4 linked regions of the Homo sapiens genome follow. The protein of the gene in region 2 interacts with the protein of the main gene of each other region in a biochemical or structural test. Each region holds a gene or a part of one and is shown on either strand. Other genes may lie near its edges.

What was found.
Region 1: the proteins of RC3H2 (region 2) and UBE2K form a complex in vitro, tested with the Homo sapiens proteins (one study listed by BioGRID).
Region 3: the proteins of RC3H2 (region 2) and UBE2Q2 form a complex in vitro, tested with the Homo sapiens proteins (one study listed by BioGRID).
Region 4: the proteins of RC3H2 (region 2) and KLHL6 form a complex in vitro, tested with the Homo sapiens proteins (2 studies listed by BioGRID, with this or other methods).

What each region holds. Positions count from the first base shown.
Region 1 is NC_000004.12:39,692,559-39,701,135, reverse strand, and holds the start of UBE2K (ubiquitin-conjugating enzyme E2 K), read right to left. Parts: upstream 3,001-8,577; 5' UTR 2,809-3,000; coding exon 2,746-2,808; intron 1-2,745. UniProt on the Homo sapiens protein: Accepts ubiquitin from the E1 complex and catalyzes its covalent attachment to other proteins. In vitro, in the presence or in the absence of BRCA1-BARD1 E3 ubiquitin-protein ligase complex, catalyzes the synthesis of 'Lys-48'-linked polyubiquitin chains.
Region 2 is NC_000009.12:122,902,202-122,910,244, reverse strand, and holds the start of RC3H2 (roquin-2), read left to right. Parts: upstream 1-4,885; 5' UTR 4,886-5,135; intron 5,136-8,043. UniProt on the Homo sapiens protein: Post-transcriptional repressor of mRNAs containing a conserved stem loop motif, called constitutive decay element (CDE), which is often located in the 3'-UTR, as in HMGXB3, ICOS, IER3, NFKBID, NFKBIZ, PPP1R10, TNF and in many more mRNAs.
Region 3 is NC_000015.10:75,895,263-75,902,113, forward strand, and holds the end of UBE2Q2 (ubiquitin-conjugating enzyme E2 Q2), read left to right. Parts: intron 1-1,732; coding exon 1,733-1,799; intron 1,800-4,164; coding exon 4,165-4,196; coding exon of another isoform or gene 4,197-4,225; 3' UTR 4,226-5,816; downstream 5,817-6,851.
Region 4 is NC_000003.12:183,503,418-183,511,136, reverse strand, and holds part of KLHL6 (kelch-like protein 6), read left to right. Parts: intron 1-2,628; coding exon 2,629-3,078; intron 3,079-7,719. UniProt on the Homo sapiens protein: Involved in B-lymphocyte antigen receptor signaling and germinal center formation.

The sequences.
Region 1 (8,577 bases), on a different chromosome or scaffold from region 2:
CATCTGACAAATTTCCAAACACTGTCTTAAGGGAAAGAGGCCAAATGATGCCTTTAAGTAAATCACATTTGTATGACACAAAATTCAAAAAATATCTATACCCCAGACACCCAACTCTCTACACAGAAAGCAATCAATTTTACCAATTTCTCATGAAACCTTTTACCCATACAGGCAAATACACACATGCCCTTCTTTTTGACACAAATGGCCTCTTCCACACTATTCTGCACCTTGCTTTTTCACATTTATCTTGTTGGCTGTATTTTAACACACTCTAAGAACGGCCACTTATAATCTCTCATAACCAGAATCCAGTAAGCGTCAGCTATCTTTACAAAGGCTCTTATAAGGCCACCCCAAAAAGTCCTTAAATCAACCAGTGTTCTTAGTAAACACAAGCATACAAACACATGAAATAAACTTCGGTAAAGTGCTGATTTACCAAAAAAGTGACATGATGAAACATTTATTTGATCAGCCATTCAAAAGACTGTATTTACACCCTTAAAAAGGAAACACATGGACTATACTACAAGTCTTCAATGAGTTGAAAATAACAATACACTTATAGAACTGGGGCTACTAAAATATCAAAAAATACTGGTGAAAATAAGCTATTTATTGGTTATATTTATTCCAAGATTAAATGATGTGACCCTTTCCTAAATGTTCTTTCCAACTTATTTTCCCAGAAGTTTCCTTCCATATTTATACAGGTACTGTTCTAAACAAAACAAAACAAAACAAACAAACAACAAAAACAACAAAAAACCTGTCTGTTTGCATTTCCTGTTTTCTTCTTCTGAAACACTTTTGATGCTTATCTGAAGTAAGGCTTCAACATCCCTTACGTATAAAGAGCAGTGTTTTTTTAATATGCATTACTAGAGAGCAATACAAGTATTTCTGGTAATCTTCAACTTAGTACTAAGAATACCACGGTGAAAAGTCAGCTCATAAAAAGCAAAGAGACCACATTAATTACCAGAGCAGTAACTTACTGTTTCTGTTACCGTAAGTAACAGAAAATAAAGCATTAAAAGTCTATTAAGTTTCAGGCTTGTACAACCTTATTAAACAAGAAATGTTTTCAGTTGTTGGCAACAACAACTGCTTTCATTAGGAGTATATATGTCAACTAACCTGGAATACATTTTCATATTAAATAAGTTAAAATTGCTGTTTCATTGTATCAGTACAGACACTTATGACTCTATTTCTGCATTGTACCACAAAATACAAAGTCATCCTTCCATTCAGAGTTTTGGCATATGAACAAACATAGAGGTCAGAGTTCATACACATGCTCTGTAAAACCGACCATGACTTATATACTACTTTCAATAAGTCTGTTGTCATTTTTGAATTTTAAATAATTTTTTCTCCATGTATACTCATCACATACTTAGAATGCTGAATTTCACAAATTATTATTGACACTATTAAAGTACTAACTGTAAAAGAAAAACACAAATAGCAATGATATATTCAATAATGGTATGTGAATCTTGAAAATAATCATTTTCTGTATTACTTTTTGTTTAATTCATGTGGGGAAGACAATCTGGCATTCTTGTTGATCTTGGTATGAGAAACTGTACTAATACTTGCATAATTTTGAGTCAAATTACTAGAGCACTGTGAATATCTTACATAAATAAACGTAGTACAAATGTATCTAAATTCTGCAGGACTTAAGAGCAACGGGAGGCAACTTTTTTGAAAATCTGTTAAGTCGTGATAAATCTCAATAAGGAGATGAAACAATGTATTAATCTGGTGAAATTTCACATTTTTAATAGGTCTGCTTTTCAAAAGTAAGAATCAAGTTAACTATGAGGGACATCATAATGAAGTTTCGTGGCACAACACGAGTCACAGAGGCACTGTCTTAAGACAGTCTCTCTGATCTGTAACTTGTAAACAATATTTTGAAATAAGCTACTCATACATTCCATTATTTGTTTCCTAACTAAAAATATTTACATGTCTTTAATACACCAAACACCTTGCCTTTGCCCACTCAAAAGATTGAGATGTCAATAAAGATGAGGCCTAGGAATTTGGGGGTTAAGTGGAAAAGAGATAATTATCTTATTTGGAATTAACTTGCTAACTCAGGTGAAAATTCCCTTACCCCTGCCACCAAATAAGACAGTATTCTATTATGTCTCCCTTTGACTCCTAACACCCAACTAAGAAGGACTAACTCTGAATGTCCTTCCTTTTTAATCAATACCTAAGGACTCACTGCTCCTTCCCCAAGAAAAGAACAGTGAAGGCCTGACAGGCAATAACCCCGAATACCCTCAAAAGTGTGGGCCTTCGAGCAGCACTGCTCTTGGGATCCAGTTACCACCTTTCCCCTTCCCCCAACCCACTTCCCGGGTTTTCTCAGGCTCGGCCTGCTCCCTCCCCACCCCACAGCCACATTTCCAGCTGCGGCCACCGCCTCGGGTTCTCTTGTGAGCTTCCATCCCTCCGAGGAGTTGCCCCCTGTCCATCACCTCCCCAAACCATGTTCCACCCCAGACCACCCGCCCGCGAGACCGTCCATCCTAGCGCTCTGGGAGGGGAGGGGAAGGCGGCGGAAGGAGGAGGGGAACACTGCTGCTTCCTCACAGGCAGAAGGGCGGCCGCAAGGAGGACCACCCAGGGACTACCGGGGATATCGGGGTCGCAGCTGGGAGGACCCTCCCGCCCCAGGCAGAGGTGGGGGATATCCGGGAGTTCATTTCTGACCTCCTCGCTCTTCAGCACCTCCTTGAACTCCCGCTTGATTCGCTGCACCGCGATGTTGGCCATGTCTCCGCCCGCAGCTGATTCGTACCCGCCTCCTCCGCCACCGCTACGACCACCGCCACCGCCGCCACCTCTTCCTCCACCGCCTCCTCCCTCGGCGATTCAGACCTGAGCACACGAACACTGCCACTACCACCCCGGCCGCCGCGCTCGCCTCAGTGTGGAATCACCTCCGCGCCCGGCCACCAAAATGGCGCCGGGTCGGCGCATGCGCACGACGTTGACCCGGCCGGGCGGCGCAGCCGCTCCCGTTGGAGCCCCCATACGCCCGAGCCACGAGCTCGCGTCTCGGCTGGGGCTGCGGCCGCGTGGCTCCGCCCTGCCGGCGTCTGGGGCCGCGAGGGTGCGGCTTCCAAGCTGGCCGGCCCTAGCCGGCCCCCCCGGCCCTTCCCGGCGCCTCCGCTCCTGTTTAAACCCGGGTGCTGTGGTCTGGGCTTCCAGCGCTGGCCTCTGACCGAAGGTTCGGGCGCAACCGAACGGGTTTCCGACGCCGCACTCGGCTGGAACGCCGCCCTGACTCAGCTAGACCCGGAACCCGGAGGCTGAACGCCGTGTCTAGCGCAGGAAAACGCTCTCCCGGATCTCGGTCCGGCCCATTTTCAGTTGGTGTAGCCCCAGAAAATCTACTGCAGTCGTTTTTGTTCTGCAACATTTATAGTACCACGATTATTCCCATCATCTCAGGTAGCACAGATTATTGAATTAAGGCTGGTTATTGTTGGATCAGATTGGGTTTGAGACAGGTACTCGGTGGAGAGGCCTGAGGGTGGGTTTAGAAGCCAGATGTTGCTCTTTGACCTATTTAATACCGAGCTTGACACACACACACAATCTCTCTCTCTCTCTCTCTCTCTCTCTCACACACACACACACACACACACACACACACTCCTATGCCCATCCCTAGAGTGTAGGGTGGGCCTAAGACTGCGCTTCTAACAAGTCTCCCAGTTGCTGCTGCTGTTGGTGCTGGTTCCGGGACCACATTATGAGAACCACTGAACTGAATGAAGCATGTGAAAATTCACATATATTAAAGTGAAAATTGGAGAAATGGAAACAATTACAGTACCCTTCAGGGGACTCGGGGTGGGGGAGGGGGAGCCTTATTTCTGTAAACCTAGGCCTCAAAGGTGCCTGGTGATAGTAGGCACTCAATAAATATTGAATGAGTAAATGAGTACAGATAAGACTAAAACGTTTTTGCTGGCGCGGCGGATCGCTTGAGGTCAGGAGTCCGAGACCAGTCTGGCCAACATGGTGAAACCCCATCTCTACTAAAAATACAAAAATCAGCCAGGTGTGGTGGCAGGCACCTGTAATCCCAGCTATTCTGGAGGCTGAGGCAGGAACATCGCTTGAACCTGGGGGTCGGAGGTTGCAGTGAGCGAGATCGCGCCACTGCACTCCAGCCTGGGCCACAGTGCAAGATTCTGTCTCAAACAAAACAAAACAAAACAAAAAGTATAAAATATTTTAAGTGGAAAGTAAGTTTGAAAGTGGTTTCTGGGCCAGGTGCGGTGGCTCACGCCTGTAATCCCAGCACTTTGGGAGGCGGAGGCGGGCGGATCACGAGGTCAGGAGATCAAGACCATCCTGGCTAACACGGTGAAACCCCGTCTCTACTAAAAAAATATAAAAAAAATAGCTGGGCGTGGTGGCGGGCGCCTGTAGTCCCAGCTACTCGGGAGGCTGAGGCAGGAGAATGGCGTGAACCCGGGAGGCGGAGCTTGCAGCGAGCGAGATTGCGCCACTGCACTCCAGTCTGGGCAACGGAGCGAGACTCCGTCTCAAAAAAAAACAAAAAACAAACAAACAAAAGAAAGTGGTTTCTGGTCGGGCGCGGTGGCTCACGCCTGTAATCCCAGCACTTTGGAAGGCCGAGGGGGAGCAGATCACTTGAGCCCAGGAGTTTGAGACCAACCTGGGCCCTATGGTGAAATCCTGTCTCTAAAGATAATAATTTTTAAAAAAGAAAGTGGTTTCTAAGGTGCATAGTAATAATGGTTTGGTACTGAGAAGCATTTTGAATAGAACATTTTGGAATAAGTAATAAGGGTGTCATTTCAGAAGTTTATACTTCATGCACTTTCTTCACCTAGCCAATCAGTAAAATATCTATTATAAAAATATCACAAATACATGGTTTTACCAAAAGTAATTAAAATTGTGGTGGCAAACATGGAAATAGCCAATGGAGGCGAATCAGTGGGGGCACAAGGCAAAAGAGAATTTCTTAAACTCCCGCCCCAGGAACCAAGAGGAGATTTTAAAATTCCAGTTCTCTCCCATGGCAGTTCTCTTGCCAGCTTTTATTTCCTCATCTACGAAACGAGAAAACTGGATTAGATTATCTCTCTCAAGTTTTAAGAGTTCAGAATTCGAAAATATCATCTCAAAACATTTCCCCTAAGTGGGCTGACATAAATTATATAAACCCTTCTAGCAGAGCCCCCTAGTGGTCCTAAGAGGACTCAACCATATACGTAGGTCATGGTACAAGGAATTATTGGTGTAATGTAAATCACGCAATGCTATATGTATTTGTGCCAGTAGACTTAAAAAAATTATTTTGAAGAGTGCAAAAACTTTTTGAGCACTTTACATTATCACTGTCCAATCCTAATCTTGGAATGTGAAGAAACTTGGAATACTCAAAGGGGGACCAGTTAGAAGGGTCCAGGCCGGGCGCCCTGATTTATGTCTGTAATCCCAGCACTTTGGGAGGCCGAGGCGGGCGGATCGCTTGAGCTCAGGAATTCGAGACCAGCCTGGGCAACATGGTGAGACCCCCGACTCTACTAAAATACAAAAACTTAGCTGGGTGTGGTGGCGTGCGCTGTAGTCCCAACTACTTGGGAGGTTGAGGCAGGAGAATCGCTTGAACCCAGGAGGCGGAGGTTGCAGTGAGCGGAGATCACACCACTGCACTCCAGCCTGGGTGACAGAGGGTGACTCTGTCTCAAGAGAAAAACCACAAAAAGACAATTCCCCCTCTCCAAAAAAAGGTCTGGTAATTTCTTTCTTTTTTTTTTTTTTTTTTTTTTTTGTCTTTTTTCCCCCCTTTCTGTGGAGAACGGGGTCTCGCTATACTGCCCAGGCAGGTCTCAAACTCCTGGGCTCAAGGTATCCTCGCGCCTCTGCCTCCCTGAGAGCTGGGATTAAAGGTGTGAGCCACTGCACCGGACAAGGGTCTGGTAATTTCTTCAAGGGAGAGGGTTTGGTAATCTTTAAATGCACATAATCACTGCTCCTGCAATTTCACTTCTAGGAATTCATTCTGTAGTCCTTCTAATGAGACAACTGCATATTAACTGATATGAAACAATCTCCAGGATATATTTTAAGTGAATAAGAAGCGCCATGCGAGGCCAGTCACGGTGGCTCACACCTGTAATCCCAGCACTTTGGGAAGCTGAGGTGGGCCGATCACTTGAGGTCAGGAGTTGGAGACCAGCCTGGCCAACATGGTGAAACCCTGTCTCTATTAAAAATACAAAACATTAACTGGGCATAGTGGCGGGCACCTGTAATCTCAGCTACTCGGGAGACTGAGGCAGGAGAATTGCTCAAACCCAGGAGGCGAAGTTTGCAGTGACCCAAGATTGCACCACTGCACTCCAGCCTGGGCAACAGAGCCAGACTCTGTCTCAAAAAAAAAAAAAAAAAAAAAAAGAAGCACCACGCTAAATGCAATGTGGTATCCTGAATTGGATCCTAGAACCAAAAGGGCATACCTAGTGAAATATAAATAAATTCTGTAATTTAGTTAATGGTATTATAACAATGCTAATTTCTCAGTTTTGACATAGCCATATGGTAATGTATGATGTTAACATTAGTGGAAGTTGAGTAAAGAGTATACAAGAATCTCTGTACAGGGCCGGGTGCGATTGCTCAAACCTGTAATCCCAGCACTTTGGGAGGCCAAGGCAGGCAGCTCACCTGAGGTCAGGAGTTCGAGACCAGCCTGACCAACATGGAGAACCCCGTCTCTACCAAAAATACAAAATTAGCCAGGCATGGTGGTGCATGCCTGTAATCCCGCCTACTCAGGAGGCTGAGGCAGAAGAATAGCTTGAACCCAGGAGGCGAAGGTTGCAGTGAGCCAAGATCACACCATTGCACTCCAGCCTGGGCAACAAGAGCGAAACTCCGTCTCAAAAAAAAAAAAAAAAAAAAGAATCTCTGTACTATCTTTTCAACTTTCTTGTAATCTAAAATTATTCCAAGGCCAATTGTGATGGCTCATGCTTGTGATCTCAGCAACTTGGGTGGTGGAGGTGGGAGGATCACCTGAGGCCAGGAATTCTAGACCAGCCTTGGCATCACAGAAAGACCCCATCTCTAGCCAAGTGCGGTGGCTCATGCCTGTAATCCCAGCACTTTGGGACGCCAAGGTGGGCAGATTACGGGGTCAGGAGTTTGAGACCAGCCTGGCCAGCATGGTGAAACCACGTCTCCACTAAAAATACAAAAAATTAGCCAGGTGTGGTGGTGCACGCCTGTAATCCCAGCTACTCGGGAGGCTGAGGCAGGAGAATCACTTGAACTCAGGAGGCAGAGTCTGCAGTGAGCCGAGATCGTGCCACTGCACTCCAGCCTGGGCAATAGAGACTCAGTCTCAAAAAAAAAAAAAGACCCCCATCTCTCTCTTTTTTTTTTTTTTTTTTGAGACGGCATCTCGCTCTGTCGCCCAGGCTGGAGTGCAATGGCGTGATCACGGCTCACTGCAACCTCTGCCTCCCGGGTTCAGGAGATTCTCCCACCTCAGCCTCCCGAGTAGCTGGGACTACAGGTGCCCGCCACCACGCCCAGCTAATTTTTTAAAATATATTTTTAATAGAGACGAGGTTTCACCATGTTGGCCAGGATGGTCTTGGTCTCTTGACCTTGTGATCCGCATGCCTTGGCCTCCCAAAGTGCTAGGATTACAGGCGTGAGCCACCACACCCAGCCAAAAAGACCCCCATCTCTACAAAAAAAGTAAAAAACTAGCCAGGGGTGGTGGCATGTGCCTGTAGTCTTAGCTGCTTGGGAGGCTGAAGTGGGAGGCAGGTTTGAGCCCAGGAGTTTCAGGCTGCAGTGAGCTATAGTTGCACCACTGCATTCTAACCTGGTGTCAAAGTGAGATCCTGCCTCTAAAAAAGATAAATAAAATAAAATTATAAAATAAAATTATTCCAAAAGAAAAAGTTTACTTATTAAAGGGTATGTCACAGCCCATATGTATATAGTATGCCACCATATTTGTAAGGAGAGAAAGGAATATGCCTGTATATGTAATGTTTGTGAACCATAAAATATCACTGGAAAAATGTGGAAGAAACTGATAACAGTGGTTACCTCTCAGGAAGGAACTTAAGTACTTTGGGGGAAGCAAAGTGGGAGAATTTTCACCATGTCTCCTGTTGTATTTTTTATCCATCCAAAAACAAATTTTTAAAAATGTGTTTCCAATAATGGAGAACATAGCTCTTCCGTAATATGATCTAATTCTGATTAACTTCGTTAACTAAATAATTAAATAAGTATTTATTGAATGCCTACTATGGGCTAGGCCCTGGAGGCATATCAGTGAACAAGAGATTAAAATCCCTGCAATCGTGAAATTTACATTTTAGCAGGGATGAAGAAAATTAACCTCAAACTATAGTCTACAGACACCTGGGCAATCCCTGAGATGTTTTCAGGCAGTCAATCTACCATCCTTAAAGTATGGCTTTTTTTTTTTTTTTTTTTTGAGATGGAGCCTTGCTGTATCGCCCAGGC
Region 2 (8,043 bases):
GAATAGCAGAATTTTTTTATACAGGGTTAATAATCCTTAAAATACTTTTATTTCCATGCCTTATTAGTATACATACTTAAGAAATGGTTCATTGGGCCCGAGTTTCTTGATTTTATTTAATACAATCGGATTTAATAATTTTGTGGCCAGTAAAATTATACCATTGGCATGAAGCTGTGAAAAATGAGAAATTCTACCTTTACCAGGGATATCTGTTCTACTGTTTTAAAAGTTCCTCTCTATTTTATTTTTTATTTAACATGAAGTAAAATTGAAATTTCTTCTTGGTGTATAGTTCTGTGAATTTTAACAGAAAGATTTGTGCACCACTACTGCAGTCGGTACAGAACAGTTCCTTCACTCCCAATAGCTCTCTTATGCTGTCCCTTTGTAGTCAGCTCCTTCTAGCTCTAATCCTGGCAACAGTTCTCCGTCACTATTATTTTGCCTTTTCTGGACTGTCATATAAACAGAATCTTATAGTACGTTCCCTCTTGAAATGCTTTTTCACCCAGCATAATGACTTTGAGGTTCATCCATGTCATTTTAAATTTTGAATTGGCAATATATATTCTAGCTGTTACTAGATGAGCAATTTAAAAAGGTGTAGCTATTAGTGTTGTATTTTTTCATTTACATTAATGTAATTTCCATTCACTATGTGTTGATAAAAATCTTAACCATCCCTAGAGTTTTATATTTCCAAAAATATGCCAAAAGGAAAACTATGACTGTATGATTATTTTAGCGAGAGTCATATTTGAGATGGTGTTCTGAGCCATAGTTCTCTAACATCTCCGTCTACATATAACACAAAACTTTTATAAATTATTTTAACAAAGATTAAAATATACTGCAGGGCAAATAATATTCTCTAAAACACAGGAACTGCTTTTCGTAAAGAAGACTGACTAGATGCATCTTTCTTTGAAGCTGTTCTAGTCCTCCTCTAGTTAACTTAGCTTTATGTAGAATTTCTACTGTATTTAATTTCTATTGAAGCCCTTCTGTATTTTAAAATGTAATATACTTTGTACCATTTATAAAAATTGTGTGATGAATGAATCACATGTTCGTTGTTATAAGTGTTAACCTTTTTTTGACAATTTTGTGGGAAAGACATTCTCCACTGAATTTTAACTTTCCTTGAGACTTTCAAGAATGCAGGTCTCGTTTGATGAAAAAACCGACTTCATAACCCAATGTTACTAGTTAGCGACATTGTGCTGAATTTCTCCTTGAACTTTTTAACTTTATATGTAAAATAACTTTGATCTTGGTCATTTGAAAGATCATTTCCAGGTCTAAAATTCCATGATTTTGTATTTAATTCTTCCTGAGAACAGAAGAGGGGAAAGCAAGAGAGGACGGTTTTGTGTCTTTATGAACTTTGTTACTTAAGTACTCCATTGGAGACATAATTTTTCTAATTAGTGGATCTTTTTCCACTGGAAAGTGTGATAGCTCATTGCTAATTTTTCATTCATAGTTCATTGCTTCCATTTGACCTAAGATTGGCCATTTGTTGGTGTGAAAATATTTTCTTTTCAGAAATAGTTTACTAGTGATTGAAGTACTTTTCTTATTTTTGCTTCCTATTATAAAATGGCGTGGGGGGAAGGGGGAAGGATGGAGATGGGAGGAGAGGGTAAAAGAATAGTACTCTGATTTTTTAAGAATTAGTATCTACTATCTTGGATATTTGAAAAAAAATTGGTTGAAACTATGTTTAAGTTTTATGTGTGCCTTGTAAGATTGTTGTAAAATTTTTTGTGAGCACTTTGAGATTTTTGCTGGGGGAGGGGTGTTTTGTGAAAGTGATGGTTATTATTTATATTATTTATTCCTGTTCAGTAGCACGGAATGATCTCCAAACATTCCTAGGAGAGTGTCTGTTTGCATGATATGTCTAAAAATTTTCAGGAAAATGGAATCTTTTTTTAAAGTTCAGGTATGACAAAGTATAGAATTTATTCATTTAACATATTCACATTTAGTTTATGTTTCTGATATGACAGAAAAATGAAAAGTGTTTGAGTTCAGCCTCTTCATTTACTCCATTTACATATAAAAGATCTTGAAAAGGTAGTTGTTACTTCGTTGTCAGAGAAAAACACTTGCCCTTTTTCCTGGGATGTAACTATCTTACATGTTTACATAAGAAATAATAAACTGGAGGTGGGAATGGAGAACAATGTGTTTTGTCTTCATCTTTGAATTTTAAAGGATACAATTTAAAGGATACAATTTCTCCTGACTATACATTAATCATTCATCTAGCAAATACTTCCTGAGTCCTTACAATGAAATATAAGTTAGGTATACAGACAAAAATTCCTGCTCTTGTGAAACATCTTAGTGAAGGGAGACAAACAGTAAACAAGTAAGTAAAATCCATGTATGTCAAATTTTGAGAAGGAATTTGGAGAAAAATCAGGAATAGGGAGTACCAGAGAAGGGGGATGGAATTGCAATTTTAAATATGGTGGTCAGCGCCGGGCGCCGAGGCTCAGGCCTGTAATCCTAACACTTAGGGAGGCCGAGGCTGGCAGATCACTTGAGGTCAGGAGTTTGAGACAAGCCTGGCCAACCTGATGAAAACCCTTCACTAAAAATACAAAAATTAGCCGGGCATGGTAGCGCTTGCCTGTAATCCCAGCTACTCGGGAGTCTGAGACAGGAGAATCCGTTGAACCTGGGAGGCAGAGGTTGCAGTAAGCCAATATCGCACCGCTGCAGTCAGCCTAACTGAGGGAGCAAGACCCCATCTCAAAAATAAATATGGTGACCAGGACACCTTTGAAAAATCTCGGATTATCAGAAATATATATTCTTCTGTCTAGTGAAATGTAAATATATCCAGTAGAATAGAAAAATTTGGCCTGGACTGGTGGCTCACGCCTGCAATCCCAGCACTTTTGGAGGCCGAGGCAGGCGGGTCTTCTGAGGTCAGGAGTTCAAGACCAGCCTGGCCAACATGGTGAAAACCCGTCTCTACAAAAATACAAAAAAGAAATTTAGCCGGGCATGATGACGGGTGCCTGTAATTCCAGCTACTGGGGAGGCTAAGGCAGGAGAATTCCTTGAACCCAGGAGGTGGAGGTTGCAGTGAGCTGAGATCACACCATTGCACTCCAGCCTGTGTGACAGAGTGAGACTCCGTCTCAAAAAAAAAAATATGTACATATATGTATATATAATGTGTATGTTTATATGTGTATATATACTTATATGTATCTATATATGTGTATATATATTTATATGTATGTATATATGTATATATGTGCATATATGTATATATGTGTGTATATATATATATACACAGTAGGGTGGAAAACAAATATGTACATGTAAATTACCTATCACTGTCCAGTTGAAATTACTGAAACAATTATTGGTTGTTAACAGTTCTCTAGGCCTGGCATATGTTTCATAAAGAGAAGAGAACGAAAAAGATAATGTGTGGAAGAAACGTCTTCGATGTGGCCAATGAATCTTTTTTCAAAAACACTGATTTTTGCCTGTCATTCAGACAAATATAATAGGTAATAACTATATATTTTGTTAAAACTGTAGAAGCAACCTTTCCATATTCTAATTTATCGTAGGTTTACTTCGATATTTTTGTTGTTGGGCATCTGATTTCACATTGGAAAGTGCCTTGAGTTTAATTACAAGTCATGGTCATTTTTTTTCTTCTTTTTTTTGTTGAGACGGAGTCTGGCACTGCCCCCCCGCCTGGCTGTAGTGCAATGGCGCGGTCTCGGCTCACTGCAACCTCCGTCTCCCGGGTTCAAGTGATTCTCCTGCCTCAGCCCCCCGAGTAGCTGGGATTACAGGTGCCCGCCACCACACCCGGCTAATTTTTGTATTTTTAGTAGAGCCAGGGTTTCACTATGTTGGCCAGACTGGTCTCTAACTTCTGACCTGGCGGTCCACCCGCTTCGGCCTCCCAAAGTGCTGGTATTACAGGCATCAGCCACCGCGCCCGGCGTCATGGTCATTTTCTAGCCTACATTCTTTAGTTTCTCATCAGTAACAAGGGGTACATTGTATCTGTCTTCTAGGATCACTTTGCTAATTAAATGAAATGTAAATAAAACTAAAATATTTAAAATTAAATATCACCTAACACAGGACCTGCCTGACACATACTAAGTAGTTTATAAATGTTAATTCTGATATCCCTATTCCAAGTCTGTTTCATCTATAAATTATAAACTGTAAGAATAATTCTTACCTTAGTTCGCTGTGTAAAAAGCTTCAACAAATATTTGAGATATGATGCCAGAATTTGTGCTTAAATTTTTTATTTTTGCCAGCTTTTGAGGAGCTCAGAGCTTTCTTCCCCCCCTCCCCCCCCCACTTTGGACTCTTTGTCTAGAAACAGAGTTTTCTCTTTAATAAAGAAGTGAGATGTGGAAGTGCCTGCCAAATACATGTTTTCTTCTTGTTTTTGTAATGGGGAGATTACTTGACATCTTTGTAAAGGGATTGAGGGATCCTGTCGGCATGTCATCACAGGAGTGTGAAGAAGAATGTGACACAGATGTATCAGATTCTGCTCAATGGATTCCACGCTTTTCACGAAGGGAGTTAAGACACTCGCTCAAACCAGCGTCTAGGAAGCCGGCTCAAGGCGCAGATGAATGTGCAGGGAATTTCCCATCAATCCCTTCGGCTTGCCTAGTCCTTCTCACAGTACCTCCCACAGTGCTCCGGGGCTCCCTTGTCACGTGATCGGGGTGGATCCGCTGAGGCAGAGGGAAGTTGATTCGCAGTTTGGGTGGCTGGGGCTACTACGCTTTCCTTCCAACTCCCGACTCCCGGGCTTGCGTAATCTCGCGTTAAGTGGGGAGTAACTTCTCGCGAGAGCTAGATCGGGATCCCTCCAGGTCCGCCTCCGTGGTGAGGAGGAGGAGGAGGAGGAGGCGGAGGTGGAGGGAGGAGGAGGAGGCCCCGTCGCGGCCTTCGCCGCCGCCAACGGGGCTGTCCCTGTAGCTCCCGATGGAGTTTGAGGTCGTGAAACCTCCGCCGAGCTCTGCCCCGGCGAGACGAGGCGCCTCCGTCGCCAAGCCGCGCCGTCGCGGGGCTCCCGGGAGCGGCCCTTAGCGACCCCGCCCGGGCCCCCTCAGGTAGGGCGGGGGCGGGCACGATGCGGCTCGGGCCCCAGCCCGGGTGCCTGGTCCCCGGCGGTCGGGCGGGAGACCAGTCTCAGCCCTGGGGCCTGTGCGCTGTCGCCCCTGGTGCCTCGAGGGTTGGGAACTGAGGGCCGCACCTGACACTCGGATGGAACCCGGGCCCTGCGGAGGCCCCTCTCTCTGGTAGGGCTTTTTCGATGCGGAGCGACCGGCTCAAATGGCCACCTTCCTTCGACACTGGCCGAGCGGACGCCTCTGACCCCTAACGAACCCACCCAAGCAAAGGCCCGGCTTCACTCTCCCTTTTCTACACCAGTTAGTAAGGGGGTTTGGAAGAGGTCCTCGAAACCAAGTCTTCTCCTAGCTTTTCAGCTTTCTGCCCTGGGGCTTCCCGAGACCCTAGCGTAGAGGGTGGTGGAGGCGATCTGAGTGGTAAATAGGAACCCCGGCCAAACAATGCCCTGGGAGGGCTTAACCTCCCAGGATGGGGACGGCCGGACCTGAGTGGTTGCACAGGGGTTGTGGCTAGGAGCAATGGCATGAAACACAGCCAGGAAATTCTGCTATGGCTTTCTTCTTTCCCTCTCTCATTTTTCCTTTTTGGTGTAGCCTCTTGAGGAGACTCTTCCACCATCTTAGAAGAATGGTAGAAAGCATCTTTGTTTCCCAGAGAAGCAGCTGTACTTTTTTCTATCCTTAGCTTTCAGGATGGGAGAAGATGAGGGTAGCTGTCATTTCCATCCTTCAAATCCCAAGGCAGCCGTTTAAGATACCGGCAGATAAATCCTTCACACCAAAATTGACTCAAGTAATCACTGGCATAAAGTAAATCTAATCCAGTGATTTATTTATATTTTCATAACCCTTGGGTTCCCTTTTTAATTCCTCCTCTCCCCTTACCCACGGCCTTCCTTTTTTTCATTTCTACTCTCCCCCTACCCATTGTGGGTGGGTGAGTTTGTATCCCAAATAAAGTGCTTTAAGTAATCTTTTTTCCAATTTTGTATTGGCCAAACTTTTAAGTTCCAGTAGGAACTTTTGGTTAACCTGAGAAAGCTAACGTTGCTATACCACAGTGGTATAAAGTCACTCAAAAGCAAAGAAACAAATGTTAGCCAGTGCAGCCTTTTAATGGTTAAACATACAAACTTAGTTAAAAGCTTTTTACGATATTAAGAATATTAATAGATTCTCCTTTTTAAAAAACCTTTTAGCTGTCTAAAAAGCTATACCACTGTTGTAGCTTCACATGCCTTTCTTACGTTGTTTACTTCCACGTTCAATTTTTGAAGAAATAGAGGTCGTTACATCCTGTTAAAGACTGCTTTTCAATATTGACATTTTCGTTGATTTGGAGATTAATGTTTTCAAAATTTTAGAGTTTGGAAAATTGCTAGGAGGACAGAATGTGAAACATATTCTAGTTACGTTTAGAAAAAGCAGATGTTATAATTCAAACAGGCACTTGTTCTATGAGGATTTAATTACACTCGTGTTCATTAGTGGATCCTTTGAGTTACCCCTGATCTGTTATTTCTGTTGTGGTAACCTGACATGTAAGAAGACTTACGTCCTTTGTTCATATATTTTTGTTAAATCATACTCTGCTTTTGTAATTTGCTGTCTTCCACTTTGAAAAAACCAAAAATTTGCATTTTGGCAAAGCATTCTTCTTTACACTCAGGATTTTATATTCAAAAGTTGAACTTCTACATTGTTTGCAATAGCTAAGAACGCTAAAAAAAACTTCATAACAAGGTTTTAGTAACTACTTACTGTTTAGTTTGTACCGTGTTGAAGTTTCACTTTTTAGTGATGGAAAAAGGAAGCATGGGTAAAATAAAGCTAGCTGAAAATTAAAAATAAGTTCATGTTTTGCATCCAGTCTCATGAATGTTATGATCAGCGTCTCTAATTTTACTAAAGCTTTAAGTGTAAGTGTGAGTTTTACCTCAATTTCCTGATAAAAGTTCTAAGTATTACTTTATAATTTAAATATTCTAGAGTTGCACTGTCCAGTACTAGCCAGTGGCCACATGTGACAGTTGAAGATTTGAAATGTGGCTTCTGTGAATTGAGATGTGCTTTAGGTGTAAAATACCAGATTTCAAAGACTTAGTACCAAGATTTTTTTTAATATCTCAGTAATTTTAATATTGACAACATGTTGAAATGATATTTTGTATAAACTGGGATAAATAAAATATATTACTAAAAATAATTTTAGCTATTTTAACTTTTTTTTTTTTTTTTTTGAGACAGTCTCTCTCTATCACCCATGCTGGAGTGCAGTGGCACCATTCGGGTTCACTGCAACCTCTGCTTCCAGGTTCAAGCAATTCTCATGCCTCAGACTCCTGAGTAGTTGGGATTACAGGAAGGCACCACTACACCAGGCTAATTTTTGTATTTTTAGTAGAGATGGGGTTTTGCCATGTTGACCAGGCTGGTCTGGAACTCATGACCTCAAGTGATCCACCCACCTCCCGCCTCCGCCTCCCAAAGTGCTGGGATTACAGGCGTGAGCCACCACGCCTAGCCTCTTTTAACCTTTTTTAATGTGACTACCAGAAAATTAAAAATTACTCGGATTATAATGGCTCACATATTTCTATCGGATATTACTGTTGTAGATCAGCATTACTCTTCCAAGAAATATGTTAGTGGAATAAAAGTAGATGTATAAAAACCCAAAACTTCCAGATAGATTATCCTGTTACAATCAGAATAATTAAAGAGCTAAGGACTTTGGTAATATGAAGGATGAAGTTATCCATTGGCTATGATTTGATAGGCAGAAGTAAGTTCTATCTCAAAGAAAGTATTTTTCTCGTCATCACTAATATTAGTTATACTTGTTAAAATAGAAAGTTGGCTGGGCGCGGTGGCTCACGCCTGTAAT
Region 3 (6,851 bases), on a different chromosome or scaffold from region 2:
CAAACTCTGCCTCCTGGGTTCAAGCGATTCTCCTGCCTCAGCCTCCCAAGTAGCTGAGATTACAGGTGTGCTCCACCACGCCTGGCTAATTTGGTATTTTTGTAGAGACGGGGTTTCTCCGTGTTGGTCAGGCTGGTCTTGAACTCCCAGCCTCAGGTGATCTACCTGCCTCAGCCTCTAAAAGTACTGGGATTACAGGTGTGAGCCACCGTGCCTGGCCGGCTTTACTATTTTAAAGAGCTCTTAGATGTTGAAAAAGACTACCCTGTAGAAAAATAGGAAAAGTCCTTACATAAATTTAACATGTTAAAAAAAAATAGGAAAAGGGGGTATAAAAAGTCTGTTTACAGAAATAGAAATAAATGGCTCATGAACATAATGGAGACATGCTCAGTCTCACTCAATAGAAATACAAATCAAAACTATACTGGGAGTCCATCTAGTATATTGTCAGAAATCTACAAATGTTTGAAGTACTGCATTGGTGAGGCTGCATCGAGGCACTCTTACAGATGGCTGGTGGGCAGACACATTTGTGCAGTTATGTAGAGGGCAATTTAGCAATATCTCAGAATTACACATATATATCTTTTGACACAGCAGCTCTACTCTAGGACATTTTTACCAGTACTCAGCAGATATACGTACAAGGTTGCTCTTGGCAACATTATAACAGCAAAATATTGAGAAACCCTGATGTCCACCAATAGGGGACTGATTAAATATTTGAATATCCATATAATAGAAATATTTCAGTGTTTAAAACAGGTATGTTCTATACTGATAAGGAACATTCTCCAAGATATGCTAGACAAGAAAAGGGGCAGACCAGTGTCTGTAGCATGCAACTGTTAGTGAAGGAAAGCCAGGGACAGTGGCTAATAACAGTGGGCTGTACATGAATAATCTTAAAGAGGGACATACAAGAAATTAGTAATAGTGGTTAACTTGTGTGGAGGAAGGGGGATGAACGGGAGGAAACTGGGTGTTCAGGGCACCAAGTAGGAGGGAGAGTTTTCACTTAGGATGTAGACATTTTTGAGTCTTGTGCTGTGTGAATTTATTATGCAAAAATTTCTGCCACATAATATAGTGGATAGATGGGTACCACTATGGAGAGTGCTCCTGGTATATTAATTCGAAGCGAAGATATAGGTTGGTTGTACTTATGGTGACAAAATTAATCCTAGATTTGGCTCCTTAAAAAGATTGTATATTTTTATCAAAAGAGGGCTCCTTTAGTAAGCATGGTGACAATTATGGGCATTCTTTAGATTTCTAACTTAAAATGTCATTCATATGTATAGTTGTGGAAGCTTAATATTTTCTTATCTGAAAGTAATATTTTGTAGTTTTTTTAAAAATAGAAATTGTGTGAAGACAGTTTGAGTTTTATTAACATCCAGATATAATCCTTTAACTTGATTCAGCAATATGGAGACGGACTCTAGAACCAGAAAGCTTTGTACTTGTCCAATGGTAGGAAGACTTATAAAAATGAACTGTGAGGCTTGTTGAGTTTTATTGGGGTACAATTTTGGTTTTGTTATTTTTATAAAATTGTAGAGAATAATGAAACTGAGAAATGAGGCTATTAAGTTAAAATTGTTTTTGAAATGGAGATAGTCAGTTTCCCATGTTCTTTTAAGCACAGTGTGATGCATTCATAAATTTATTGTAATAATTTTCACCTAATTACACTTTTGATTTAAAATGTGTAATTCTCTTTCAGAATCAATATAATCTAGCAAGAGCCCAACAATCCTATAATTCCATTGTACAGATACATGAGAAAAATGGTATGTTTAATTCAATAAGTGTTTATTGCCATTTAAGAAGTTTTAGATAATGTATTAATACTTACCATTTTATTTTTCTGTTTTTGCTTTAGTTTCTTAAAATGCTGTTACCATGGTGAAAGAAACTTGTGCTGCATACAAAATCTTTATTTATTTATTTATTTATTTTATTTTATTTTATTTTATTTGTTTTTTGAGACGGAGTCTCGCTCTGTCACCCCAGCTGGAGTGCAGTGGCACTATCTCAGCTCACTGCCAGCTCCGCCTCCCAGGTTCATGCCATTCTCCTGCCTCAGCCTCCCGAGTAGCTGGGACTACAGGTGCCTTTTTTGTATTTTTAGTAGAGACCGGGTTTCCCTGTGTTAGCCAGGATGGTCTCGATCTCCTGACTTTGTGATCCGCCCGCCTCGGCCTCCCAAAGTACTGGGATTACAGGTGTAAGCCACTGCACCACAAAACCTTAACATTGTACTTCAGTCAAAATTTTTGTATCCTATACACTTGGCCTAGGTATCTCAGAGTCAGAATCAAGATTTCTTTTTTTTTTTTTTTAGTAGATTAATGAATGACTCACTTTACTTACTTGAAATATTAGGAACTGAGTTAAAGGCAACTCCTTACAGATGGAGTTCTTGTTGTTATAACTGGAGTGCAGTGGTTGTTTACAGGCGTGATCATAGTGGACTGCAGCCTCAAGTTCCTGGGCTGATGTGATCCTCCTGCCTCAGTCTCCTCAGTAGCTTGGACTGTAGGCACAAGCCACCATGCCTGTAAAGTATTCTTTACTTTGCTAGAAATGTGTCAGTTTGTGACTTAAGATTTGTGTTTTGTGCTCATTTATTTTAATGACAAAGCAAACTTGTCACTCTTTCAGTGATTGCTTACTTATGGAAATAGTATTCAAAACAAAATTTTCAAGCAGAAGAGAGAAACGATAAAATTTGAGGACAAGGCCAGGTTTTCATAATAATAATTTCTAGCACACAAAATTAGATCCAAAGAAACCTGTGTACTACTTTGATACTTTATAGATCTTGGCATATTCATACTATTCTAAAGTTTCATACTAAACAGTACTTAGTCTAATTTGCCTTTTTATAGAGAGCTTAGGTTTTTGCGGAACCTGGGACACAGATTTCTTCTTATCTTTGTTTTTATTTCTTAACCATTACAACTGGCATTCAAAAAATATTTATAGAAAATGCTGTATTTGAGAGTGTGTGGGTATGTGTAAGCTTAGCTGTGATGAAAGAGTAATAGAGTCAGAAGCAGGGGAGATGACTTCTAGGGTTTTGTTTTTTTTTAAATCTTAAAATTTTTTTGTTATTTTAAAAAAATAGATATTATACTTACTGTGTACAAAGTTTTGAAGTATACATAACTGTGGAATGACTAAATCTAGCTAATTAACCTAGGCATCACCTTACATAGTTATCATTTTTATGGTGAGACACTTTACATCCACTCTTAACATTTTTCAAGAATATAGTATATTGTTAACTATAGTCACCATGTTGTACAATAGCTCAAGATGGATTCTAGTTTGGCCTGCTACTAACTCTGATTTTAGGCATAGTCATTTAGTCATTGCACCTGCTGCGATGGCTTCCTTGTCATTGTGAAATGACGTTATGGCTCCGATAACAGTCCAAGTTCCTTGTATTCTAAATCGCCAGGATTTTGTTTGGGGAAATAAGTACTTTCCATGAGGCTTACTTTCAAGTATAGAACTGAAGTGGAATAAAACTTATTCTTTTAGTCTAATATTCCACAGTCATCTTTAGCTAGAGATGCCATTAATACAGAGCTCTTGTGTTGAAAACTCAGGTACAATTTATTCATAGAAAATAACTTTCTGTTGTGAAATAGCAAAATGCAGTGTTCCCAATCCAAGTGTAAGTTTAATTTTTAGAGTAGACTGGGTGCAGTGGCTCACACCTGTAATCCCAGCACTTTGGGGAGGTGGAGGTGGGTGGATCACCTGAGGTCATTAGTTGGAGACCAGCCTGACCAACATGGTGAAACCCTGTCTCTACTAAATACCAAAAAAAAAAAAAAAAAAAAATTAGTGGGGCATAGTGGCGCATGCCTATAATCCCAGCTACTTGGGAGGCTGAGGCAGGAGAATTGCTTGATCTGGGAGGTGGAGGTTGCAGTGAGCTGAGTTTGCGCCATTGCACTCCAGCCTAGGTAACAGAGTGAAACTCTGTCTCAAAAAATATATATATAATATATATATATATTTTTTACGGTAGATTTTAAACACCAAAATTATGAAAAGAGACTGTAGCTAACCTTATTACATGCCAGTTCTTCTAATTTATTTAAGAATTATTTTAACTTTTTTTTTTTCATTCTATTTCAGGCTGGTACACCCCTCCAAAGGAAGATGGCTAAATGTGTTGACTGTTGTATGTTTGGACTAATGTTGCTTTAAAGAAAATCTTTCTAACATGCAGACAAAAGCTTTGAGTGCCCCTATTACAGCAGTACCGAAGATGTTAGTTAATAGATATTTTAGTGGATAATCTGTCATCTGACATCCAGTATAAGTTACAGCCTTTGCATTTTGCTCATTTTAGATATCTTGGACTGAGCAGTGGGGCCTTTACTGTATTTTTCCTGATAAATACACATACTGGCCACTCCTTATCTCTTTTTCTTGAAAAGTGAACTTTTTAAAGCAGCCAAGTCAACATCAGGCTACTGAAGTTGAGGCTTTAGGGTAACTTTCCTATATTGAGCCCATGGGTTACAAGGATTTGCAATATATTGTTCCATTTACAGCCAATACAGGTTTAATCGATGTTCAATATTGGTTTAGGAAATTTAAGGCCTTCTAAATCATAATAGCTCTTTCATGTCTAAAACCATTTTATGATATTGCCAAAATGTGATAGGAAACCTACTCATTAAATTGTTAAACTTTTTAATGACTATGTGAAGATATGAATTGTTTCCTGAAGATAATACTCTTAATTGAGTTGTATTGTACTTCTTAGGCAAAGCAGTGTAAAACTGTATCAATTAAGGCTTGTGAGTAGTGATTTCCACTGGGGCATCAGAGTCTTGGCTGGGCTGAATCTGCTGCTTGTTGGTTCAGTGTTTCTTATGAACAAGAGCCACAGTACAGAGCTTCAAGTTATTTAAAATACTAAGTCATCTTACGTTTCCATTTTATTAACGGGATGTTGCAATCGTTTGTAAACTAATAAACTTATAAAGTGATTGGCACAAAGACTCCTTGAGCAAAAGCTGTGCAGTTAAGTACAAAAAGATACTTAATTTGGAGACTCTTACAGTAATTTTTGCCATGTCAAAACAATGGCTTTTACATTGAAAGATTAATAGAAACTCTACATATGTTAATTTTTTTATAGAACCTGACTCAAATCAAGGTACTCTCCATTTTATTGCCTTACCTGAATCAGTCCTTTTTGGTTGGTAATAGATTTTTTTATACACCCACGTTTGATTTAAAAGTAAATTCTAGTTCTTAAGCACTTTTAACAAATCCAGAAGCACATTTTTCTGCACAAACAAGTTACAAAGTTCAAAAGTGTTTCTTGTGCATTAGCTTTGAGATTCAGTTTTTAACTTTGTAAACCACATCTGAGAGACTTGTCATTTCTACATTGTGTGTGTTTAATTTCTTTTGATTCCATTTTGGTTAAGAGAGCAGTAAATAGATTTTCTGGTATTCTTGTTCACTTGATTACATTTGTATAAAGTTCTGATTGCCAGTTGCTCAGATAACAAGTGACAAGGCAGAATTCTTTAAATCAGTAAAGTTCCTTAAGCCTAAGGCTAAATCTTGAATACATTGTTGAATTCTTTAATATCCTGATGGCAAGCAGACTGATAGCTGCACATTTGGCATGCTTTGTTTAATGGATTTTATTTTTAATTGCAGATTTATTTGGCAATGTACAGTAAATTTTGTAAACTTGCATCAAGTTTATGAATAAAGAACCATTTAAAAATTTTGTTTGTGCTGATCATGGCAAGCAAAAAAAAGATTACTTTCTCATTTTTCCCTCATAAGAAAACTCTGCTTGATGTGTTTGTAGGCTTTATTGAGTTTCTGGAATAAGATATTTAAGGAGGGAAGTGGTGAGGGGAGGCTTGGAAGACAGGCAGATTTAACAAGAGAAAGTGAAAGTGTGAAAGAACCTGGAAATAGTCTGTACAATAGTCACCTTTTCCTCCGCCTTTTTCCTCTTCCATTCTCATTATAAATTCAAGTGCTACTTTTTCCTTATGGCTATCCTTAGTTCCCCCAGTGAAAATAATCTGCTCCTTCCTTAGCATACCCATGGCCTCCTTGCACACAATTGACAGATTATTTCACATACAAGAAGTCCAGAGGTAGGACAACTCCAGGTACTGTACATCTGGGCTTTGCTCTGCTTCCTTGAGATTTTTCTATGTTGGTTTCATCTTTTGGTTGCATGTTATGTGCAGCCCCCTTACTTGATCCAGAGGTAGATAAATGGCCCTGTCTTCTAGTGTCTCCTTAGGAGGTGAGGAAATCTCTAAAAGCACCATCCCATCAAGCACACTGCCTCTTGCCTTTCCTTGGCTACATCAGGGACCTGTGCCCACCCCTAAACCAATGGTGGTGAAAAGAATGAAACCATCGTGATTAGTTTGCACAAATGGTTCTCAAAGCCTTATTTGGGGAACACTGGAGACCCCTGAGACCATTTCAAGAGGTTTTAAAAGACTATTTTCATAATATTAAAACATTTGCCATTTTCACTCATTCTTCCATGTGTACAATGGAATTTTCCAGAGGCTACATGATGTGATTTTGCAACAGATTGAATTCAGAAGCAAATATGAGAATCTATTTGTCTTCTATTAAGACAAATTAAATATTTGCAAAAATGTAGTGATGCCGTCACTGGTAAACTGTCCTCTTTCCCTACTTTATATCAGCCACAAAGAAAGAACGCCCACTTTGAAAGGCAGTCAGGTTTCATTCAGTAGCCAGAGAATGGAGAAGGGGAGCTCATACTCTAAAGGCACCTTCTCCCAGAGGGATGGGAG
Region 4 (7,719 bases), on a different chromosome or scaffold from region 2:
ATTCCTCTTATTGAGATAGTGAAAATAGTAATCAATAAATACTGAGGGAACTCAGAGACTGGTGCCGGTGAGGGTCCTCCGTATGCTGAGCGCTGGTCCCCTGGGCCCACTGTTCTTTCTCTGTACTTTGCCTCTGTGTCTTATTTCTTTTCTCAGTCTCTCGTCCCACCTGACGAGAAATACCCACAGGTGTAGAGGGGCTGGCCCCCTTCAGCATTGACCCTCGGAGAAATGCTTTATTTATTTATTTATTTATTTATTTTGAGATGGAGTTTTGCTCTTGTTGCCCGGGCTAGAGTGCAATGACACGATATCAGCTAACCGCAACCTCCGCCTCCCAGGTTCAAGCATTCTCCTGCTGCAGCCTCCTGAGTAGCTGGGATTACAGGCATGTGCCACCACGCCTGACTAATTTTGTATTTTTAGTAGAGACGGGGTATCTCCATGTTGGTCAGGCTGGTCTCCAACTCCTGATCTCAGGTGATCTGCATGCCTCGGCCTCCCAAAGTGCTGGGATTACAGGCGTGAGCCACCGCGCCCGGCCTAAAAAATGCTTTTTAAACTGACAATCCTATGTGATCTGACACAGAAAGATAATATTTTGCAATAGAGGTTGATCCAAAAAGTCAGGGATGTGTTCCCTGGAATGCTCTGGAGTAAAGTCCAGAGCCTAGGTCACCTTGGTCCACTCTTAGAACCAGTCCTGCCCCACTATCAACCTTCAGGCTCGATAGCCCCACTCCCCACAGCTCCTGCCAACCCTCCCCAGTCAGGTCTGTCCTGTCCCTACTCTCACCAGGACCTGCCTTCAGAAGGCCTCCCCCACCCCCACCAGGTCTTGCCCCCTCAGCCTCCCCTTTCCTCTCCCCCCATTAATCGATCAACCCATGGGCACCAAGAACTTGACCCTATAAGGAGTCCAGTAGACGGGGAAGGGAGCTAGGAGGTTGAAATTGTTCAAAGCTAAGCTCCAGAGAACAACAAATAAGAATGAACCAATGCATTTGAGACATGTCATCTGTAAAATGGATATTACAAAATATAATGGATATAACAGTGCTTTGTCATCTGTAAAGTGCCCTACAAGCACAAGGGACTTGAATTTTTATGAGGATGGTGATAACTTAAAAGTGGGACCTGAGAGCCAATCAATAATTTTACAAATTGATTTTTTAATGACAAAAGCGGTACGTATTCATTTTAAAGGATATATAAATAAATAAAACATATAAATAAACAAAAACAGAAAAATTCTCATAGTCTTCTTAGAGTGTCATACCTTCTATTATTTATATAGTATATTCCCTGTCCATCCCATGAGACCTGTTTCTGTGGGAGAACTATGGTTCCCTTGATGACAAATTTTGCCATGTGACTTACTCTGGACGGTTTTGTGTAAATGGATATAGCATGCGCCCCCTCTGAGCAGAAGCTTTAAAAGCCTCTGTGTGGTTCTGCCATCTTTTTCCCCTTCTGTCATGGGACCAGCATGTCTCAGGTAAGGGCTTTCCATCTTCCTGGCCCCTGGAATGAAGAGCCCCGTGAAGAACACATAGTGGGTAAGAGGAACATTTATTGTAAGCCCCTGAGACGTGAGGGTTGTTTGCTGCTGCAGCAGAATTTGCCTTAAGATACCTGATAACCCAAAGAGATAACAACCATTAATATTTTGACCTACATCCTTTCATCTTCTTTCTATGACTTTATTCTGTGTATGTTTTCTTTATAAAAATAAGGTCACAATGTACATATGATTTGTGACGTGCTTTTCTCATTTTATCTGCAAATATTTCACTTATAGCTCTAAAAAATAAGGATTCTTCTTCAACATAAACATGAAACCATTATGGCACCTAAAATGAATCATAATTGTTTCATTAGCACCAAATATTAGTCATTGTAAACATTTCTCCAACTTTAAAAAATATATATTGTTTAAATCAGGAATCCAAATAAGATCCATACTTTGCAATTGGTCAATGTGTCTTAAATCTCTGTTTATCTTTAGGTTCTCCCTCTCCTTCTCTCTCTCTTTTATCCCCTTGTAATGTATTTGTTGAAGAAACTGAACAAGTTGTTCAGTAGAGTTTTCCACAATCTGGATTTTGCTGATCATGTTCCCATGACGTCTTTAGCAGGTTCCTCTTTCCCTGTATTTCCTGTAAATTGCTGAGTAAATGTAGAGGCTTAATCAGATCCAATGAACAGATTTTAAAACTCAATACATTATGAACATTTTCTATTTCATTTAATATTTTCTACAACATGTGTTTTAAGTATCTACAGAGCTATCGACTGTATGAATGAATTATATGTATTTAGCTAGTCCCGTAAGTGTCTCATTGTTTTAAGTCGACTGTATGAATGAATTATATGTATTTAGCTCCTCCCGTAAGTATCTCATTGTTTTGTCGACTGTATGAATGAATTATATGTATTTAGCTCGTCCAGTAAGTATCTCATTGTTTTAAGTCTACTGTATGAATGAATTATATGTATTTAGCTCATCCTGTACTGTTGGACATTTAGGTTGTTTCCAATTTTTGGCTAATACACATAACTCACTGATAAACCTCCTTGTGGACTCACCATTTTCTGGCCTCCTTTCCACCCTTTCTATTTCATCAGTTCCTGCGGATGGTGGATGCCTGTGCCAGCTTCCTCACTGAAGCCTTGAACCCAGAAAACTGCGTTGGAATACTGAGGCTGGCTGACACACACTCGCTGGACAGTCTAAAGAAGCAGGTTCAGAGTTACATCATTCAAAACTTTGTGCAGATTCTGAACTCTGAGGAGTTTCTTGACCTGCCCGTGGACACTCTGCACCACATCTTGAAGAGTGATGACCTTTACGTGACCGAGGAGGCTCAGGTGTTTGAGACCGTGATGAGCTGGGTCCGGCACAAGCCATCAGAACGACTCTGCTTACTCCCCTATGTCCTCGAGAACGTGCGCTTACCGCTTCTGGACCCGTGGTACTTTGTGGAGACGGTGGAAGCAGATCCTCTCATCAGGCAGTGCCCAGAGGTCTTCCCGCTGCTCCAGGAAGCCAGGATGTACCACCTTTCTGGCAATGAGGTGAGTAGAAGATAAGAGGTGCTATATTTAACCAGCGAAGTAAGGAGTTAGCTAGGGGCTCACAGAGATGCAAGCAAAGCGGATTCAAAAATCCTTAGGGCATTAAGGAGAAAACACTGCCCTGTTCATTGCTGAGTCGGTCAGTTCCAGAAGCCCTGATTCCTGATCTATGAGGCCGATCCCACGTGTTCAGACAGTTACTGAGCGCGTTAGGTGAGATGTAGAAATCACCCAGCACCATGCCTGGCCCGTGCTTCCTCTTCCCAGTTGTGGAAGGGTGGGAGGTTGGGGGTCACACTGCACGCACAAACAAGAATGTGCCCTGGGCCGGGCCTGGTGGCTCACACCTGTAATCCCAGCAGTTTGGGAGGCCCAGGGCGGGTGGATCACGAGGTCAAGAGATCCAGACCATCCTGGCCAACATGGTGAAACCCTGTCTCTACTTAAAAATACAAAAAAATTAGGTGGGCATGGTGGCATGCACCTGTAGTCTCAGCTACTCGGGAGGCTGAGGCAGGAAGATCACTTGAACCCGGGAGGCAGAGGTTGTAGTGAGCCGAGATCACGCCACTGCACTCCAGCCTGGGCAACAGAGGGAGACTCTGTCTCAAAAAGCAAAGCAAAACAAAACAAACAAAAAACAAAAAAAACAAGAACGTGCCCTGTCTAGTCACTATTCCATGGGGGTGCTGCTCTTCCTTGCCCACTCTGGTGAAATCTTGTGTCTCTTGTATATACTCTGACATCACTTTGATTTAGACTCTCACCATCTGAATTTCTGGAAATTTCTCAAAACTCATCTTCCTCCCCCAAGTCTGGCCTCCCTCCAATTTATTCACCAGCTGAAAGATCTGAAACTCAAGTCTGATCATCTTGCTCCTGGGCTTGCCTTCTTCATTGGCTCCCCATCACTTTCAGAATAAAGCCCATACTTCCTGCCTACGTTCCCAGAGCCTGGTCTTGCATCATTAATCTCCTGCCTGCTTCTCTAGTGTCCTCTCCAACCTCCCACTTCTGCTCTAGTCCTAATGCACAGCTTGTGGTTCCCCAAAGTGGATGTGCTTTTTCTGCCTCCAGGTCAATCTGAATGTTGTTCAAATGCTTTTCTCTTCTTCATCTAGCTGACTTCTACTCCTACTTCAAAACTCAGTCCAAGCATCACTTTCTCCAGAGACTTCTCCTTTTATTTATTTATTTATTTATTTATTTATTTATTTATTTATTTATTTTTGAGAGGAGGTCTTGCTCTGTTGCCCAGGCTGGAGTACAGTGGTGCAATCATAGCTCACTGCAGCCTCGACCTCCCAGGCTTAAGTGATCCTCCCACCTCAGCCATCCAAGTAGCTGGGAGTACAGGCATGTGCTACCACACCCGGCTAATTTTTAAATATTTTGTAGAGACAAGGTCTCACTATGTTGCCCAGGCTGGTCTTGAACTCCTGAGCTTAAGTGATCTTCTCATCTCAGCCTCCCAAAGTGCTAGGGTTACAGGTGTGAGCCACCACACCCAGCCACTCTCCGTGTTCTCATAGCACTTGGTGCATTGCTCCATCACAGCACCAACTGCTGCATGGCAATGATTTGAATTTATTATATGTAAATATCTCTAGACTGGGAGCTTGTTATAGTAGGAAATATGTCTTATTGCACTTTACATCTCTAGATCTTAGAAGAGAGTCCTGAGACTGCTATATAGTGAATGAGTAATTAGTAAATGCTTGTTGAATGATTAAATGGGTACTACGAACGGTGAATAAACATGTCATTTGGATCTACCTGGTTCTCCTTAACAATTCCTGAAGAAGATTTTTCTTCAGAACTTTATAAAGACAAGAACAAATTTAGTGGAGAGGAAGTAATGATATAGGGACAGTTTGTTAACAGTTTGTACACATGAACACCCATACATATATCTCACTATGCAGTGGTTCTGGGATTAGCTACCAGGCTTTCTTCATTAGGCCATTGGTAGAAGCCTTAGCCAAACGTGGCCCAGGAATTGTCTGTCTGAGGTTCTTTTAGAGTTTCTCCCTTTTTCTGTGTGTTCTTTTCTAGTTTTTTTGTTGTCCTTAGATCCACTGTTCATTCATTCACTCTGCAAACATACCCTTAAATGTTTAGTAGAATTTACCAGAGCCTGGTGTTTTCTTTGTGGAAAGTTTTTAAACTATAATGTATATCTCTTTAATAGATATAGGACTATTTAGGATCTCTGTTTCTTCTAGAATGAATTTTGATAGTTTGTGTCTCAAAGAATTTTTTCATTTAATATAAGTTGCTGAATTTATTGGCATAAAGTTGTTCACAGCATTCCTTTATTATCTTGTTAATACCTGCAGAATCTATAGTGTTGTCACATCTCTCATTCCAGATATTGGTAATTTGTGTCTGCCCTTTTTTTTTTTCCTGATCAATCTGGTTAGAGGCTTATCAATTTTATTGATTTTTCTCAAATAACTAATGTCTAGTTTCATTTGATTTTCTCTATTGTTTTTCTGTTTTCTATTTCACCTATTTCCACTCTGATCATTATTTTCTTTCTTTCTGCTTAGTTTGGGTTTAATTTGCACTTATTTCTGTAGTTTCTTAAGGTGGAAGTGGAGGCCACTGATTTGAGACTTTCTTTCTAATATTGGCTTTCATGCTATAAATTTCCCCCTAAAAACTACTTAAACAGCATCCCATGTATTTAAGCACGCTATGCCTTCATTTTTTGCAAATAAATCCTGAACACCAATTCCTTGCCAGATATGGCACCAGGTACTGCAAAAACAGTCTGTGTCTTACCCAGGTACTGCTAAACAGTCTGTGTGTCAGAGAAGATGGGACATTTAACAAATGAAGGGTGATGAGTGGATTGATGGGGGGAGCCTAGGAAACCACATAGGTCCTATTCTATGCTGGATGTCTAGCAGACAGCCTGCATATAATTGCAGACAGGTTTCAGTCTCCGTAACTGCCCTCAGTTCAGCATTTATTCAGTGTCTCCCATGGAATACTACACAGCCATAGAAAAGAATGCAATCATGTTTTTTGCAGCAACATGGATGGAGCTGGAGGCCATTATCCTAAGTGAACTGACACAGGAACAGAAAACCAAATAATGCATGTTTTCACTTATAAGTGAGAGCTAAACATTGAGTACACATGAACACAAAGAAGGGAACAAAAGATACCAGGGCCTACTTGAGGGTAGAGGATGAGAAGAAGGTGAGGACTGAAAAACTACCTATCAGGTACTATGCTTATGTATGATTTCATCATACGGATGATGAAATAATCTGTACACCAAACCCCCACAACACACAATTTACCTATATAACAAATCTGCACATGCTGAACCTAAAAGTTAAAATAAATAGCACTTTAAAACAATTTAAACATATACTGTGCCTTGATCAACTATACTTCCAATATTTTTGCTATTTTTGTTTCTGCTTCCTATTTTCTAAGTCCTTGAAATGCAGATGATAAAGATTTTCTCTGATATAAAAGGTCCCTACCCTGTCTTCTGCAAAATTGCTGCAATGAAATATTTTTATTGCCTTTTGTATTTCCGAGGTGCTGGGGGCAGAGTCAGACATTATAAGCTTTAGATTTAGGAGGAGAGAGAATTCTGACATCTGGAAAATTCTTCAGTGGTGAGAACCTGGGCTTGGAGTCAGGCAGAGATCTGGGTGTTAATCTTGACTCCACAATTTATTTACAGTGTAATCTCAGGCAGTTACTTAGCTATGCTAAGGCTCAGTTCTGATCTGTAACATGGGGGTAATAATACCTACCAACTGATAGAACTGTCTTGAGAGTTAAGTAATGAATGGAACGCTTAGCACAGTGTCTGGTACAAGCTAAGTGCCCCACAAATGGAAGCTGTTGCCATTGCCACTTGGTTCGTTTATTGTTGCTCCATCTCTCACAATCAATCATTTTCCTTCTCTGGGGTTAAAACCAGTCTTTTCACTGTGTCTCAGGTTTTTGTGGCCTTATTTTCCCAAATCCTTCTCAAGGCACTTTCTCATCTTCATTTTATAGTTTGGACAACTGAACCAACCAACCAGCCACCATGACCTCCTAATTGGGGTCTCATTGCCAGTTGATTCCCTGAGTCAGTCTGCTCCCTGCTGGAATGGTCTTGGGTTGACTCCTGATGACAGTAGTGTGAGCCTGGAGGCTACTCTGTGAACACATTTCTCCCCGTACCCTTCATTTACCAAACTTTAACCCTCTTGTCCTATCATCATCTTTCCCATTTTTGTTTTATTTTGTTTTGTTTTTTCTTCAGACAGACTTTTGTTCTTGTTGCCCAGGCTGGAGTGCAATGGTGCGATCTCGGCTCACTGCAACCTCTGCCTCCCAGGTTCAAGAGATTCTCCTGCCTCAGCCTCCTGAGTAGATGGGATTACAGGCATGTGCCACCACCCCTGGCTAAGTTTGTATTTTTAATAGAGACGGGGTTCCTCCATGTTGGTCAGGCTGGTCTCAAACTCCCAACCTCAGGTGATCTGCCTGCCTCGACCTCCCAAAGTGCTGGGATTACAGGTGTGAGCCACCGTGCCCAGCCCATCTTTCTCTTCTAACCTTGCCCATCCTCTAAACTGGTGTTAACAACAGGAAATTTTAGAACACACCAAAAGCAAATGT